Homo sapiens: one gene and its partner. The protein of the gene in region 1 purifies or fractionates together with the protein of each later gene. This does not show direct contact. Each region holds a gene or a part of one and is shown on either strand. Other genes may lie near its edges.

What was found. Proteins that work in one complex are often made in the same cells at the same time.
Region 2: the proteins of C6orf136 (region 1) and MPZL1 purify together in Homo sapiens (affinity purification with mass spectrometry; one large-scale study listed by BioGRID and IntAct). This does not show direct contact.

The regions. Positions count from the first base shown.
Region 1 is NC_000006.12:30,645,678-30,651,585, forward strand, and holds the start of C6orf136 (uncharacterized protein C6orf136), read left to right. Parts: upstream 1-1,455; 5' UTR 1,456-1,554; coding exon 1,555-2,169; intron 2,170-3,880; coding exon 3,881-4,282; intron 4,283-5,316; coding exon 5,317-5,405; coding exon of another isoform or gene 5,406-5,409; exon of another isoform or gene 5,410-5,423; intron 5,424-5,588; coding exon 5,589-5,789; intron 5,790-5,908. Other genes in the region: ATAT1 (alpha-tubulin N-acetyltransferase 1), read left to right, coding at 218-297, 390-432, 792-966.
Region 2 is NC_000001.11:167,724,590-167,728,488, forward strand, and holds part of MPZL1 (myelin protein zero-like protein 1 isoform a precursor), read left to right. Parts: intron 1-3,899. UniProt on the Homo sapiens protein: Cell surface receptor, which is involved in signal transduction processes. Recruits PTPN11/SHP-2 to the cell membrane and is a putative substrate of PTPN11/SHP-2.

The DNA of each region.
Region 1 (5,908 bases):
CAATAAATCAGAAGCACTCCAGAAAATCTTGGGTATAAAATGAACTTCCCCCGCCCTTTTCTGGGGCACAGCTTTGATTAAAACCTGTTAGGAATGATAATTACCCCCTTCTCTTTGTTCCTGTGCTATTCCTTTTACTCCTCTCCTCTGATTCCTCCATACCCACCCATCTTTCATCCAGTAGCCTCCTCCCCATCATCTCCCATTTCTTCTACAGGGGGACTCCCCCAGGTCTGGTAGCCCAAAGCTGCTGCTACAGCCGCCATGGGGGGGTGAATTCCTCATCCCCCAATACAGGTAAGTATTCACTCCTCCCTACCCTCAAATCAAGTAGGCCACATTCACTGTCTACTCCTGCCTTCCCATTCACATGCCTGATATTTCCACAGGCAACCAAGACTCCAAGCAGGGAGAACAGGAAACAAAGAATAGGTGAGGTCTAAACCCCTCCCCTAACAGCCTCCCACCACCATCTGACTCCCTTCCTAACATCATTCTCAGTCACTTCCTACTCTTAAATCTTATTGTATGAACTGGACACCAGCTCCTCCCACAATTCCTTCTACCTTACATCCTGCAAGCCCCTTTCCCCCACAGGTTCAACTCTGGTACTTCCCTTTGGAATACGGATTCTCTGAGAGGTTTTAAATTTGGACATAGCACTAATGGTTCCAGCTTCATACCCATCATGTGTCCTACATTAAAACCTGGCCCGAGACCTTGAAGAGTCTGTAATCTTAATTTCCTCTTTAGTATTCCTATAACCCACTCTCCATCTCCCCACCTACCAGGTCTGCCAGTGAGGAGCAGGCCTTGTCACAGGATGGGTCTGGGGAGAAGCCCATGCACACAGCTCCTCCACAGGCCCCGGCCCCGCCAGCCCAGTCCTGGACAGTGGGTGGGGACATACTCAACGCCAGGTTCATTCGAAACCTGCAGGAACGTCGCAGCACCAGGCCTTGGTGACCGCAGCCCCGTCAAACATCTTCAAAGTATTATTTCTCCCTCACTACAGGAAAGAGCCAAAGCCCAACCCTCATAATAGATGGATACATTCATTCATTCATTCATTCAGCAGGCTTATCAGATTCAAGTCATTTGTATCTTTTAACCAGACCAATAAAAGTATTTATTTTTATCACAAGAGCTGTTGAAAAATTTGACTCATTATTTCAGCCGCCTCACCCCTCACTGTCGTTGCACCCATTCAGCCTTCAGCCCTGTTTTTGCTCAGCTTTTTGCTCAAAGGCCTCAGCTGTGAATACAGCGCTTGGGGGGGCGGGGGAGGCTGTAACTTGCGCAAGCGCACTCAGGCAGTCTCCGAGCCCGCGGGCGCAGGCGCGCTTACAGCCGACAGAGCGCTTCAGCCGCTTCCCTCGAGCCTGCAGTGCGCAAGCGCGGGACATCTCCGTTTCCCTCCCTCAGCCCCTTCCCCCCCTACCCCCCCGCCCCGGCCTCCTTTCCCCTTCACGAAGCCGGCTCTGGGGCGCGCTCACCCCTGTGAGGAGGCCGGAGGTCGGACTCAGGAGGCTCCTTCTCCACTCCCGGAAGATCATGTACCAGCCCAGCCGGGGTGCGGCCCGGCGTCTCGGCCCTTGCCTGCGCGCCTACCAGGCTCGACCCCAGGTGAGCGGAGGAGAAGAGGGAGGGAGGAGAGGGGGCGGGGAGAGACCCTCCTCAAAGCCGGTGCGTGGGGCGGAGCGCGCGCTGGGTTCCGCGCAGGCGCAGAGACACCCGCCGCCCCTTCCCACCTGTGCCCTGCAGCGCGTGGACAGGCTAGGGGTCGCGGGAGCGGGAGGGAGGCGCTGCCGGGCCTGTCGCGCAAGGACGTCGGTCCTCCCAGGTTTGAGGGCGGTCAGGCGGGGTCAAGGCCAGGCAGCGGGGCGCGTCTGCGTTGCGCCCGACTCTCCGCGGTTACCTGTGCCTAGAGGTGATTTGAAGGGCAGGGGCCGAGAGATTCGTAGCCCTGCTGCGGCGCCGTCCCGGAGTTCCCCGGCCCAGACCAGACCCGCGGGGCGCCCTCAGCAGCCCGCCCGTCTTGCACTCGGAGAGCGGTCCTGGCAGGAAGGCCGGCCAGTGTGCACCCGGTTCGGGCCCCTGCGCCCGGGCTGGCAAGATGGCCACGCCCCCAGCAGAGACGGCGCCTCTAGGACACCATCGGGGACCGAGGTACCCGAGCGGTCCGCCCGCCTTCCCTGCAGTGAGACGATCCCCTGGGGGGTTCCTTGGGAGCGGAGGGACTCGGGTGAGGCCTAACTTTGGGTGACCTCCCCTTGCAGTTTCAACGTCGGTAAACCCAGGAGAGTGAAGGCCAGCCTTTAACTGTCTCCTGAGGTTGTGTCTGTCATTAGAGGGGCCCGAAATGATAATAGCTTCCATTTATGTACTGCTTTCTAGGTCGCTACGTTTTGTTTACATTCATTATTTCATATAGGCCTCATAACCCAGTGAGGCTTTATTGTTCTCATTTATAGGACATTTGTAGGAAGCGGAGGCATAGGGAATGAGAATGCCTAAAGTTACATGATAGAATTCAGATTCCTAGCTTCAGCTGGATATTCTTTTTTCTCTGTACATTTGCCTCGCACACTTAATCATGGAGATGTACAGGCCACAGCATTTAATCCACAGTACAATAAAACCTGTTATTCGTTAACTCATCAAGTATGTATTACATGATTCTTGCGATAAGAGAGGTGAAACTGCCCCCAGTGTTGGAATCTTTTTTTTTTTTTTTTTGAAATGGAGTCTTGCTCCGTCACCCAGGCTGAAGTGCATTGGCACCATCTCGGCTCACTGCAATCTCCGTCTCCTGGGTTCAAGCAATTCTCCTTCCTCAGCCTCCCGAGTAGCTGGGACTACAGGCTCCCGCCACCACACCCGGCTAATTGTTTTGTATCTTTAGTAGAGATGGGGTGTCACCATATTGGCCAGGCTGGTCTCGAACTCCTAGACCTCGTGATCCGCCCGCCTCGGCTTCCCAAAGTGCTGGGATTACAGGCGTGAGCCACCGCGCCCGGCCACATTTCTTTAAGATTCCAACACTGGGCCGGGCACGGTGGCTCACGCCTGTAATCCCAGCACTTTGGGAGGCCGAGGTGGGCGGATTACCTGAGGTCAGGAGTTCGAGAACAGCCTGGCCAACATGGTGAAACCCCATCTGTAACTAAAAATACAAAAATTAGCCGGGCGTGGTGAAGGGTGCCTGTAATCCCAGCTACTCGGGAGGCTGAGGCAGGAGAATGGCTTGAACCCAGGAGGCGGCGGTTGCAGTGACCCGAGTTCGCGCCAATGCACTCCAGCCTGGGCGACGGTGAGACTTCGTCTCAAAAAAAGAAAAAAAAGTAAAATGTCTGCTAGGTTTTGGGAGGTGCCGGTATTTATGTCACATAAAACAGTTTGCTCGGCTGGGCGCGGTGGCCCACGCCTGTAATCCCAGCACTTTAGGAGGCAGAGGCGGGTGGATCACGAGGTCAAGAGATGAAAACCATCCTGGCTAACATGGTGAAATCCTGTCTCTACTAAAAATACAAAAACTAGCTGGGCATGGTGGCGCGCGCCTGTAGTCCCAGCTACTCAGGAGGCTGAGGCAGGAAAATCACTTGAACCCGGGAGGCGGAGGTTGCAGTGAGCTGAGATCGTGCTACTGCACTCCAGCCTGGCAACAGAGCGAGACTCCATCTCAAAATAAATAATAAAATAAAATGGTTTCCTCCTGTTTTCAGTAGAGATGGAGATGAATCCATCCCTTTTTTCCTATAGTAATTCCATCCATTCTGTCAGGAGGAATAGGTATTGGAAGCCTGTTGAGCATCCAGGGGATCAAGGGGTGTTAGACAAGTGGATTCTTATCTTTCTCCCTTCTGTTCTTTCTCCTTAGGACCAGCTTTATCCAGGGACTCTACCATTCCCACCCCTTTGGCCCCACTCCACGACAACCACTTCCCCATCTTCTCCTCTATTCTGGTCTCCCCTGCCCCCACGCCTTCCCACCCAGCGTCTTCCCCAGGTTCCCCCACTACCTCTCCCTCAGATCCAGGCCCTCAGCTCAGCATGGGTGGTTCTCCCTCCAGGAAAGGGGGAGGAGGGACCAGGACCTGAGTTGCATAGCGGCTGCCTGGATGGGCTTAGAAGCCTTTTTGAGGGACCTCCCTGCCCCTATCCTGGGGCTTGGATACCTTTCCAAGTCCCTGGAACTGCCCACCCTTCCCCTGCCACCCCGTCAGGAGATCCTAGTATGGAGGAACATCTGTCTGTCATGTATGAGAGACTGAGACAAGAGGTAAGTCAGTGCAAAAGTGGCCTTCGTCTACAGTGGGAAGGATGTGGGTAATCCTTGGACGTACAGGGATAGTCAACTGGATTCTTTTTTGGAACCATGAGGCAGGCATAGAAATATATTATAAACATTTTCCTGAGAAAATGATGTTCCAGCCAGGCACGGTGGCTCAAAGTGCTGTAATCCCAGCACTTTGGGAGGCTTAGGCAGGTGGATCACCTGAGGTCAGGAGTTCAAGACCAGCCTGGCCAACATGGTGAAACCCCATCTCTACTAAAAACACAAAAATCAGCCAGGCATGGTGGCAGACGCCTATAATCCCAGCTACTCAGGAGGCTGAGGCAGGAGAATCGCTTGAACCCAGGAGGCGCAGTGAAAGGAGATATCTCCATTGTACTCCAGCCTAGGCAACAGAGCGAGACTCCGTCTCAAAAAAAAAAAAAAGAAAGAAAATGATGTTCCTCATTTTGGGTTAAGGGAGGTTAATCATGGGATGAGATCTTTCACTCCAAGATGGGAGTAAGGAGGCCTTAAAAATAGAAAACTGGGCCTGGCACATGGCTCACGCTTATAATCCTAGCACTTTGGGAGGCCGAGGCAGGCGGATCACAAGGTCAGGAGTTCAAGACCAGCCTGGCCAACACAGTGAAACCCCGTCTCTACTAAAAATACAAAAATTAGCTGGGCATGGTGGTGGGTGCCTGTAATCCCAGCTACTCGGGAGGCTGAGGCAGGAGAATCGCTTGAACCTGGGAGGCGGAGGTTGCAGTGAGCCGAGATTGTACCTCTGCACTCCAGCCTGGGCGACAGAGCTAGACTCCATCTCAAGCCTGTAATCCCAGCTACTCGGGAGGCTGAGGCAGGAGAATCGCTTGAACCTAGGAGGCGGAGGTTGCAGTGAGCTGAGATTGTACCTCTGTACTCCAGCCTGGGCGACAGAGCTAGACTCCGTCTCAAAAAAAAAAAAAAATTAGAAAACTGAAAAATAGGATTATCTTTTCTTTCCCACTGGGTTGATGCCATCTTCTTCCACCTAGCTTCCCAAGCTCTTCCTTCAGTCCCACGACTACAGTCTGTATTCCTTGGATGTGGAATTCATCAATGAGATCCTCAACATACGTACCAAGTGAGAATTGGGGCACAGGTAGGGCACTGGGGAGGAAAAGCACCCAAAGGTATATACATGACCCTTTTCACTTCCCAGAGAAGTTCCTAGACTGCTTCTCACAGCTGTTCCCCATTCCTTAGAAGCCAGTTTGGTTTTCTAATTCTGCCATCATGAGATTTCTTTCCCATCCCTTCTTCACAGGGGCCGGACATGGTACATTCTTTCACTGACCCTCTGCCGTTTCCTGGCCTGGAATTATTTTGCACACCTTCGTTTGGAGGTTTTACAGCTGACCCGCCACCCTGAGAACTGGACCCTGCAAGCCCGGTGGCGGCTTGTGGGGCTGCCCGTCCACTTGCTCTTTTTGCGGTTCTACAAGCGTGACAAAGACGAGCATTACCGGTAAGAGAGAAATGAGAAAGGACCCAAACTATAATCAGTTCCTTTTTTTTTTTTTTTTGAGACGGAGTCTCACTCTGTCACCCAGGATGGAGTGCAGTGGCGTGATCTCAGCTCACTGC
Region 2 (3,899 bases), on another chromosome or scaffold:
CATAGGTTTTGGGCTTGGGAAGCTGGGCATATTTTTGGCCTTTTCACAGATGGGGAAATAGGAGTCTTGGGGGAAGAAGATGATGGAGATACTTTTGAATATGTTGAGTTTGAGATGCGGGTAAGACATCCAAATGGAGATGGGCAGAAAACAATTGGATAGACAGTTCTGGAGGTGAGGAGAAAGTTCTGGTTGGAAATGGAGATTTAGAGAGTTATGTGGCTAATAGTTAAAGCTTGGATTGTTTGGATGAGGGCATCCAGGGAAAATGCACTGAAGAACATAGCAGAGAGCCAAAGACGGAGTTTTGGGGTATATGAAACCTGACAAAGAGTCTCTGTGAGTAAGAGAAAAACCAGGTGAGTTTGGTATTTCAGCATTGTCAGATGAAGAGAGATAAAATGTGATAAGAATTCACTGAATTTGGTAATTGAAATGAGCACATAGTATATGAGGACTAAATCTCAGTAATTTGTACCATCCATGTCAGTAAATGGAACCTCCATACATCTAATTGTGCAGGCCAGAAACCTAGGGTCCATCCCTGATTCTTCCCTGTCCTTCACATCCAATCAGTTCTCCCATCTTTAAAATGCATCTGGAATTGATGTTTTTTCTACCTCCACTCCTAGCCTTTTAGTCAAAGTCACCACCATTTCTTGCCTATATTACTGTGATAGCCTCCCAGCTGCTCTTCCTCTTTTTCCCCCTCTGGAGTCTTGCTCTGTCTCGCCCAGGCTGGAATGCAGTGGCACAATCTCGGCTTACTGCAACCTCCATCTCCCAGATTCAAGTGATTCTTCTTGTGCCTCAGCATCCCAAGTAGCTGGGACTACAGGCATGCACCACCATGCCTGGCTAATTTTTGATTTTTCTATTTATTTTTAAATTTATTTTATTTATTTATTTTTTGGGGGATGGAGTCTCGCACTGTTGCCCAGGCTGGAGTGCAGTAGCGTGATCTCGGCTCACCACAACCTCCACCTCCCTGGTTCAAGCGATTCTCCTGCCTTAGCCTCCCGAGTAGCTGGGACTACAGGCGCATGCCACCATGCCCAGCTAATTTTTGTATTTTTTAGTAGAAACTGGGTTTCACTATGTTGGCCAGGCTGGTCTCGAACTCCTGACCTGGTGATCCACCCGCCTTGGCCTCCCAAAGTGCTGGGATTACAGGCGTGAGCCACCACATCTGGCTGATTTTTTTATTTTTAGTAGAGACAGGGTTTCACCATGTTTGCCAGGTCTGGAACTCCTGACCTCAAGTGACCGGCCTGCCTCAGCCTCCCAAAGTGCTGGGATTACAGGCATGAGCCACCACGCCCAGTACTCATCTTGGTTCGTTTTAATCCATTCTTCACAAAACTGCAAGAATGATTTTGTTAAAATGCAAATCAGATCATGTTGCCTTCTTTTTTAAAATCCTTAATGGCTTCCCATTGCACTTGGAATGAAATCTAAACTTCCCATGGCCTGAAAAGCTCTTTGTGATCTGGTTTCTGCTTACCTCTATGACCTCAACTTGTACCACCCACCACCCCTTTCTCACTATATTCAAGCCACACTGCCATCTTTCTGCTCTGTGACACTCATTCCCACCTCCTAGCCTTTGAACTAGCTGTTCTGATGTTGCCCAGGGCTGGCTCCTTTCCATCACAGAGGCTCTAAGTTTCACATCTTTAGAGAGGCCTCTCTGACCACCTTATTCTAGGGTACTTACCTGTTACTATTTGCTGGTTTGCCGTTTACTTCCTTATTGTAATTTCTATATGGTTTTTCTTCTCTTTTTTTTCCTCCATCAGAATCTGGGACAGACAAATCATCTGTCTTGTTTATAGAAGTATTCCTAGTGCTTAACACAGTGGATATGGTAGATGCTAAAAATATTTGTTAAATGGCAGTGAGGCATAGGCATGTCTTGACAACAGTTTGTTAGGAGTTTGCAATATGTAGTTATGATTTAGCATGGTATAGTAGGTCCTCAATATGTGTTTATGCAAGAAGAATATTTTTCCAAAGTGTGATTTCATGCACTGCTTATTTCTCATTATCAGTTCCCTTGGCCTTTTACTTATTTACTAGTCAGGATAGTAAAATAGAAACTTAGTCTTATAAAATATGTATATTTTTTACTCCAACTCCAGGATATCCACTAGGCTTAGATGCTGCCAAAAGAAAAAGATAAATGTTAAGTGAAAGACAGCTATGTGCAAAAGAACATAAAATGCAAGTTTGTGTTTTCATTAAGTCTAATTTATTTACTTATTCAACGTAAATGAACACCTACTGGGCACAAGGCACTGTTTATGTATGGGATGCAGCAGGGAGCCTAGATGCTAGTGAGAAGTGACAGACAGGAAACATCTACTCAAATAAATAATACCAAAGGACAGATTAAATTCCCAACAATCACAACTTTTAAGAAAATATGATTGATCTAATATGAAAATTTGCAGCAAATTTTTGAAAAATGGAACATCTTATTTGTATTATAAAATATTTTTAAAACTTATAAGGGATATGTTATAGGGTTTCTTTAAAGATTGGTCTTTCCCACTGAGTTTTAAAAACATGATTTAATTGGGAAAAACATAGCTTTTCAGAAATATTGCTGTTTCCCCTCTATCCAGTAGATGCTGGTCTACCTACTAAATATTTCTCACCATCCACTTTGCATCCACACTGGAGCTAATATAGTACAGCCACAGTCATGTCTCTACTGGATGATTAGAGCCTTCTAACTGGAGCCTGACTGTTTTTGAGTTATATCTTTTATCTGAGAATTTGAATTATTTGTGTAAGACATACATCTCATGTGTACCTCAACCTTGGAAAGATTTTTAATCTTGCTCTCTAAGACCACAGATGTCATTTTAAAAGGGAGAGTAAAATGGTAAGCTTTGGCATATAATTTATTATAGATTAGTCTTTAGCCCCATCGAAGACGGTATAATTATTAGAAGAACTAGAAGCATCTCCTGAGGTCTCAAGTGTCATATGGCTCTGAGACTTGACCCCTAAGGCTGGTGATATTAAGCCTTCATGTATCTTGAATGATATTCCTTTTTTCCTTTTCCACTCTTACTTTGCTAAGTCGTTTGACATTAGCAGTGCCCTAGAGTCCAGACAAAAGTCTTTGGAATTTTTGCTGCCGTAAGAAAGCAGAGGTCAGTTGGCTCCGTTCACCATAGTGCATAAATTGAGAAATTGTGGTTGTCTCCTGGGATCTTTATATCTTTGCCTTTAAACCCCTTTGTTTATTCATTATCTTTTTTCTTTCTTTTCCTTTTTTTTTTTTTTGAGACAGAGTCTCGTTTTGTCGCCCAGGCTGGAATGCAGTGGTGCAACCTCGGCTCACAGCAACCTCTGTCTCCCAGGTTCAGTGATTCTCCTGCCTCAGCCTCCCAAGTAACTGGGATTACAGGCATAAGCCACCACGCCCAACTAATTTTTTTTTTTTTTTTTTTTCTGAGGCAGAGTTTCACTCCTGTTGCCCAGGCTGGAGTGCAGTCGCGCCATCTCGGCTCATTGCAGCCTCTTCCTCCCACGTTCAAGCGATTCTTCTGCCTCAGCCTGCCGAGTAGCTGGGATTACAGGTGCCTGCCACCACGCCTGGCTAATTTTTTTGTATTTTTAGTAGTGATGGAATTTTGCCATGTCGGGCAGGCTGGTCTCCAACTCCTGACCTCAGGTGATCCACCCAAAGTGCTGGGATTACAGGCGTGAGCCACCGTGCCCTGCCCAAATTTTTTTTCTTTTTTTTCTTTCTTTCTTTCTTTTTTTTTTTTTTTTTGTATTTTTAGTAGAGATGGGGTTTCACCATATTGGCCAGGCTGGTCTCGAACTCCTGACCTCAGGTGATCCACCCGCCTCGGCCTCCCAAAATGCTAGGATTATAGGCA